Linked DNA regions of Homo sapiens: region 1 is linked to region 2. A link means that fine-mapping ties the variant in region 2 to the expression of a gene that starts in the linked region. Tissue or cell type: lung. Region 2 holds a variant in brackets; the other region holds the start of a gene. All regions are shown on one strand. Distances are between the middles of the regions.

What was found. PIP is the estimated chance that this variant, and not a neighbour inherited with it, causes the effect.
Region 1: XPC starts here. The variant in region 2 is fine-mapped to the expression of XPC in lung (TOPMed, PIP 0.94). The same link has a PIP of 0.9 or more in sun-exposed skin and whole blood.

The regions. Positions count from the first base shown.
Region 1 is chr3:14,177,416-14,180,069 of GRCh38, forward strand. It overlaps XPC (XPC complex subunit, DNA damage recognition and repair factor), which reads right to left and starts at 1,186. Exons shown (of 16, transcript NM_004628.5): 1 at 1,051-1,186. The coding sequence starts at 1,153. It overlaps LSM3 (LSM3 homolog, U6 small nuclear RNA and mRNA degradation associated), which reads left to right and starts at 1,402. Exons shown (of 4, transcript NM_014463.3): 1 at 1,402-1,466. The coding sequence starts at 1,446. RefSeq lists a silencer at 826-945 and enhancers at 996-1,345, 1,446-1,495.
Region 2 is chr3:14,199,199-14,202,042 of GRCh38, forward strand. It overlaps LSM3 (LSM3 homolog, U6 small nuclear RNA and mRNA degradation associated), which reads left to right. Exons shown (of 4, transcript NM_014463.3): 4 at 1-1,924. Among named protein-coding and RNA genes, the nearest start is that of LSM3, 22 kb to the left of the region's middle. The variant T/C (reference allele first, on the strand shown) is at 1,450.

The DNA of each region.
Region 1 (2,654 bases), 22 kb before region 2:
CTTGAGTTTTGAAGAAATAGAAAAAATCAGCCCTGGTAAAAGCCATGGGGGGTTCACTCTAGGCAGAAGGAACATCAAAGGAAAAGACTCAAGGAATAACTTGGCATATTTGAGGAAGAGAAAGGAGGCCAATAAGGAGGGTATCTGGCAAGGAAACAAGTGGTAAGAGAAACAGGAGAGGTAGCAAGAGCCAAAACATGTAGTATCTTGTAGGCCAGGATAAAACAACTGGATTTTAAGCTAAGAGCAATGGAAAACCAAGGGGAGTTTAAAGCAGGAGCAGGGCATGATTTTTTTTTTTTTTAAGATTATTTGGGTTGCTGGATGCAGAGCTGGGAGGCCAGTAAAGAGGAAACTGCAGTCACTCAACTGAAAGGTGATGATGACTTGGACAGGGGCTGTGGTCATGGAAATGAAGAGAAGTGGACAAATTTGAAATACACTCTTGAGGCTGAACTGACTGGACTTGCTGACGGACTGGATGTGTGGACATAAGAAAAAGGTGGGCTTTGCTTTATAACAAGTATTGAGACTGGAAAAACGGAGGAAAGCATAGATTTAAAGAGGAAAACCATGAGTTCTGCATTGCCCATGACAAATGTAAGAAGCCTATCAAATATCCATGAGGGGAAGTCAGGTGGGATCCCACTGTGGAACTCTGGGTGAGACTCAGCTGAAGTTATCATTCGGGAGTCAGCACACTGCATCACTCTACGTCCTGGTCCGTCCGTCTGTCTTCCTGGGACACAAATAACTGCCTTCTCCGAGTTCAACCCTGAACATCTGTATCCTCTGGACAACGGGGAGCGGGAAAAAAGCTACGCAGGAGCTTGGATCGGGCGAAGCTCGCGGGAAACCGCTCTGGGTGCGCAGGACAAAGACGCGGGGACAGCGGGGAGGGCCGGCCGCAGCCTGCCGGGCTGCCCCCACGGCGCGGAACGCGCGCAGCAACCTCCACCAGGCCTCCGCGTCTGGACTCCCGCCCTGCCTCTGGGCCTCCTCCGCCCACCGGCGGCGTCTCCCGCGAAGCCCGCTGGGCCTCGCTCTCACCCTCCTCCTCCTCCTCACGCCGGGCCTTGCTCTTGGCCTTGGATTTCTGGCTGCGCAGTTCGCGTCCCCGCGGCTCCCCGCCGGCCGCGCGTTTCCGAGCCATGTTGCTTGTCTGGGCAAATTCCACTTCGCGAGTGACGCACCCGGCCGCGATGCGCTAGAACGCCGGCCCCGCCCCGAGGCGGTGCGCTTGGCCACGCCCCTTCGTTGGAGGCCTAGTCACGCCCCTAAAGGAAGCTCCACCCCATACCCGTGGCCACTAAAAAACTGCGGGAAGCAGGAAAGAGCACAACAGGTTTCTCTCTATTTCCGGTGTATTGTATCCTCACGTTTCCGGAGATTGACGTTGCTCTTGTGTTCTCGCGAGAGGCGGGAAAGGGCGCAGGGTTTGAAACATGGCGGACGACGTAGACCAGGTAAGTGTATTTTAAGGAGGTCGCTCGAAGGAGCTTCTTGTACTAGGCTGCTTTTTCCAGACTCAGGAAAAATGGCCAGTCGTGCCTCCTCTCTCCAAGTCACCATGGCCTAATCCACCCTGTCCTTTCCGTAACCCCCCCTCCGAATTTTGCCGTAGGCCCTGAGACCTTTTCCTGTTAGAAGCCCACCTGATGACTATTCTCACACTCTTCGCTTCATTTTTTTAAATCTGTAGATTATTATCCTTAGCTACCTCATGGAGCTGTCAGGATTCCAATAGAAAGCCAGGTAATAAAGTTAGGAGTTGTTATCATTAGTGAGCGCAACAATTATTTATTCATTCAGCAGATAGAGTGAACATCAGCTTTGTATGGTTAGGCACTGTTCTAAGGGCCAGGGACACTGACATCGACATATAAGAGATCCTTGCCATTACTTGGAGCTTATATTTGCGAGGAGAACAGATAAAAGTAAATATAAATATGTAAGACTTCCAGGAACTGTGATGTGCTGTGAAGGAAACAAGGAACTGGTATGCAGAATAACAGATGGTCCTAGAAGCTTTTTCACCTGGTCTTTTTCTTCCTCAAATATCTTTGGAGATCATGCCACAACTTAAACTTTCTACTGAAATCTGACCTCCTCAGAGAGGACTTCTGCCCAAATAGCACTCCCGCTACTCTGGTTACCCTGCCTCATTTTTCTTCATAGAGAGTTATTTTTTCATATTAAATGTATGCATCTTTGTTTAATGTGAATCTCTCCCCACTAGAATGTAAATGCCATAAGAGCAGGGATTTTGTTTTGTTCATTCTTTTGTCTTTGGGGTTTAGAACAGTGCTGGAAACACTCAAAAAATATTTGAGTGAATGAGTTAGATGATCAGAGGAAGCCTCTTTGAGAAGCCAATATTTAAAGCTACAGGATGAAAAGAGCAGACAGTGGGCATCCCAGACAGAGGCTTAGGTAGCAGTAGGGCTTTTTCATGTGCATATTCTTACAGTATTATAATTATTTGTATGCCTCTCCACAGTAGAATGAGCTCCTTGAGGGTGGGGATTGTGACTTCTCTATCATTGTAATCTAACAGTTGGTTATCTGATCCTTTAACAAACACTTGTTGAACTGAGGGACATAGGGACCAGTTGAGTTAGGTTATTTTTTTCTCTCATCAGGCCTTTTGAATC
Region 2 (2,844 bases):
AACATGTCTCAGTGACACAGTAAAGCAGAAATTGGCTGAAAGCAAAGCTGTTTTTATTTCTAGCTTCAGTCAGCACATAATGCTTAAAACCTAAAGAGGAAAGTAAAAGCGTGTTACAATCTCTCAAACTTTATCAAGACAGGGCTTAGAACCTGACATCCTCCGCTATGGTCATTCCATTTTGAAATGTAGAAAATCCAACTTGTGGATGGTTTGTCTGTAAATGAGCTGAATGTGTGTGCGTGTTCATTATCAAGCACGATATGCTCACAAATGCACAGTACTTTAAGCCTTGTGCAAGAAAGATGCTTTCAGTAAACATATTTAAAAGGTTTTATTTTCCTTACTAATGGTACATGCCCCTGCAAGTTCATGGAGAAGAGAAAAACAAGTGTGGGTGAGCTGATGGAGGCTTCATCTTAGGTGAGGAGGCAGGAGAGACACCCTCCCTTCACTTGTGCCATCCCCACGCTTTGTCCTTAAGCTGTAGTGGTCCCAGGAGATAACCTGTTTACAGCAGCCCATTCAGTATTGAAAAATGAACTCCCTCCTGCAGAATGTTAGAAGAAACAACCTCAAAGACCTCAGGCCGCCTGTGGTCATTAGTATGTGGCAGCAAGATTGAACCTGCCTGCCTCCTACCTGTGTGAGCCTGTGGTGTGGGTGTGGTACCAAGGCCCTGGCTCTGGGCAGTCTGTTGGCTCCTGGTGTTCACTAAGGCGTGGGGTGACAGGCCATCTGGCCTCGCTCTGCCAGTCTGCAGTTCTCCCCAGCACTGCATTCATTTTTAGTGGTTTCTGATAGTCACACTGAATTCCTGGACACTTTCTTCTCTTCATTCTTAGTTATCTTTCTCCTTTTTCTCCTGGAACTGATAGTTTACACTAAAACTTTTGGCTGTGAGGACTTGATTATACACATTTCTAAAACCCATGAACCTTAATATCTGACACTGTTACTCTCATATGCACACACAACTAAAACATACCAACCTACTTCATTTCCTAGCTGCTAAGATACAAGGGGAGGGACAATAAAAGGTTAACTGCAGAATAGCCACCTATGTGTCAGGAAATGGAGGGAGGGGAGGCAATGTGTGAGTCCTTTTGGAGCTGGGACTCAATCCACAACAGAGACAGCTCAAGCAGGGCCCTGCCATGGTCCACACTGAGGTTTCCTCTGCAGTGGTGCTGTCCACTGAGGGGTTATGGTGTGAGGGCCCCTGGGAGCCACGCCTTGGACTTCTGAGTCTGCAGAGCACTCGGCTCCAGCCAGCTGGATGGCAGGTGGTCAGTGGAGCTGGTGACTGGTGGTTTCTGCAATGAGGTGTCAGATTAGCCTAAGGGAAGCCTCTTCAGCAAGTATCATGCCTGGATCCCGGTCTTGGTTGTTTTATGAGAGGCCGATATGAATTGCCATTGCCTCCCACAAAGAAAAATGGACAAAATA[T/C]GGGACCACATCTTTGAGATGAAATGTGCCCAAAATGAAAAGTAACTTGAGTATCCCAAGTTAAACTTAATCATTAGCTGCAAATGGACGATTTTCAAATTTCAAATAGTGATTTTTGAAGATTTGCCCAAACTAGAGTACTATCCCTCTTCACACTAAGAGGCAGAAAGTGGTTTCACACACCCTTTTATTTAATCAGCTAAAGTGGGTGCGGTGACACACACCTGTAAACTCAACCACTAAGGAGACTGAGGCGGGAGGATTACTTGAGCCCAGGAGTTCGAGATCAGCCTGAGCAACATAACAAGACCCTGTCTCAAATAATACTTAGCTATTACCCATATTGCTTTTAGCCTGCTGCCAGGAGGGGAGAAATGTTATTGTTTGAACAGATGTCAGATGTGAGTAATGCTCAGCTGTGTTCAATGTAGAAAATTAATAAAAGTTCCAGGAGTCATCCTGGCTAGATCAAGAAGCACAGTTGATGTTTCTCTGTCACTCAGCTCTGCTGAACTACATGGATTTCATTCGTGGGCAAGCTCTTCCCTGTAGCAGATGCAGACTTCCAGCCTACCTGCCCTCCAGCTAAAGTGGTCTCATCCTCCTTGCTTGGTCCCTGTGCCCATCTGTGGGCTGGTTTTTACGGCCATGAGAATGTGGGGCTCTGATTGGCCAGGCCTCAGTCACACGCCCATTTCTGGAACTAAGAGCAAGGTTATCCCCACCTGAGCTGTATGGTCTAAGTGCAGAAGGAGGGGTCGTTCTCTGAAGGAAACCAGAGGAAAGGGGAAATGGAGCTGGACACAATGCCTATTACACAGGAAAACTTTTAGTCTGCCCCAACTTATAGAAAAATCCCTTTGGTACTTTCCTATTAGTAACAAATTTCTTGGAACACACCTCAGACTGACACTATGACTTTAAGCTATTGCTCTGGAATCCAGGAGGTTCTGGAGCAACCTGTGTGGGGATCAGTATGGGTGGAGCTCAGATTTGTTGGCTGACTGGGCCTGATGGTAGCCCGAGTCCTCTTGAGGGGTCTAGGTAGGAGATCTGCAACACAAGAGGGCTGTTAAGCTGGGGGTAGGTATCAGGGGGTCCTCAGAGCTTCTGGGGAGGGCAGGGTAGTTGAACAGAGTGGACTGAAGAACACTAAGCCCCATGAGACAAATTGCTGCTTACAGGCAGAGACCATATTCACAACCCCTGGCAGAGGGCCTGGCCAAGAATTTGTCTTCAATAAATGTTAAATGAATATTTAAATGACAAGAAGACTAGTGCAACAGGACTTTGTGATCAGCACTGTGGATGGAAGGTTCAAATGGGAGTTTGAAAGAAGGTGAACTTTGCACATTGTTTTCCAGACACTTGTGGTTTCCTTCCCACAATTGGACA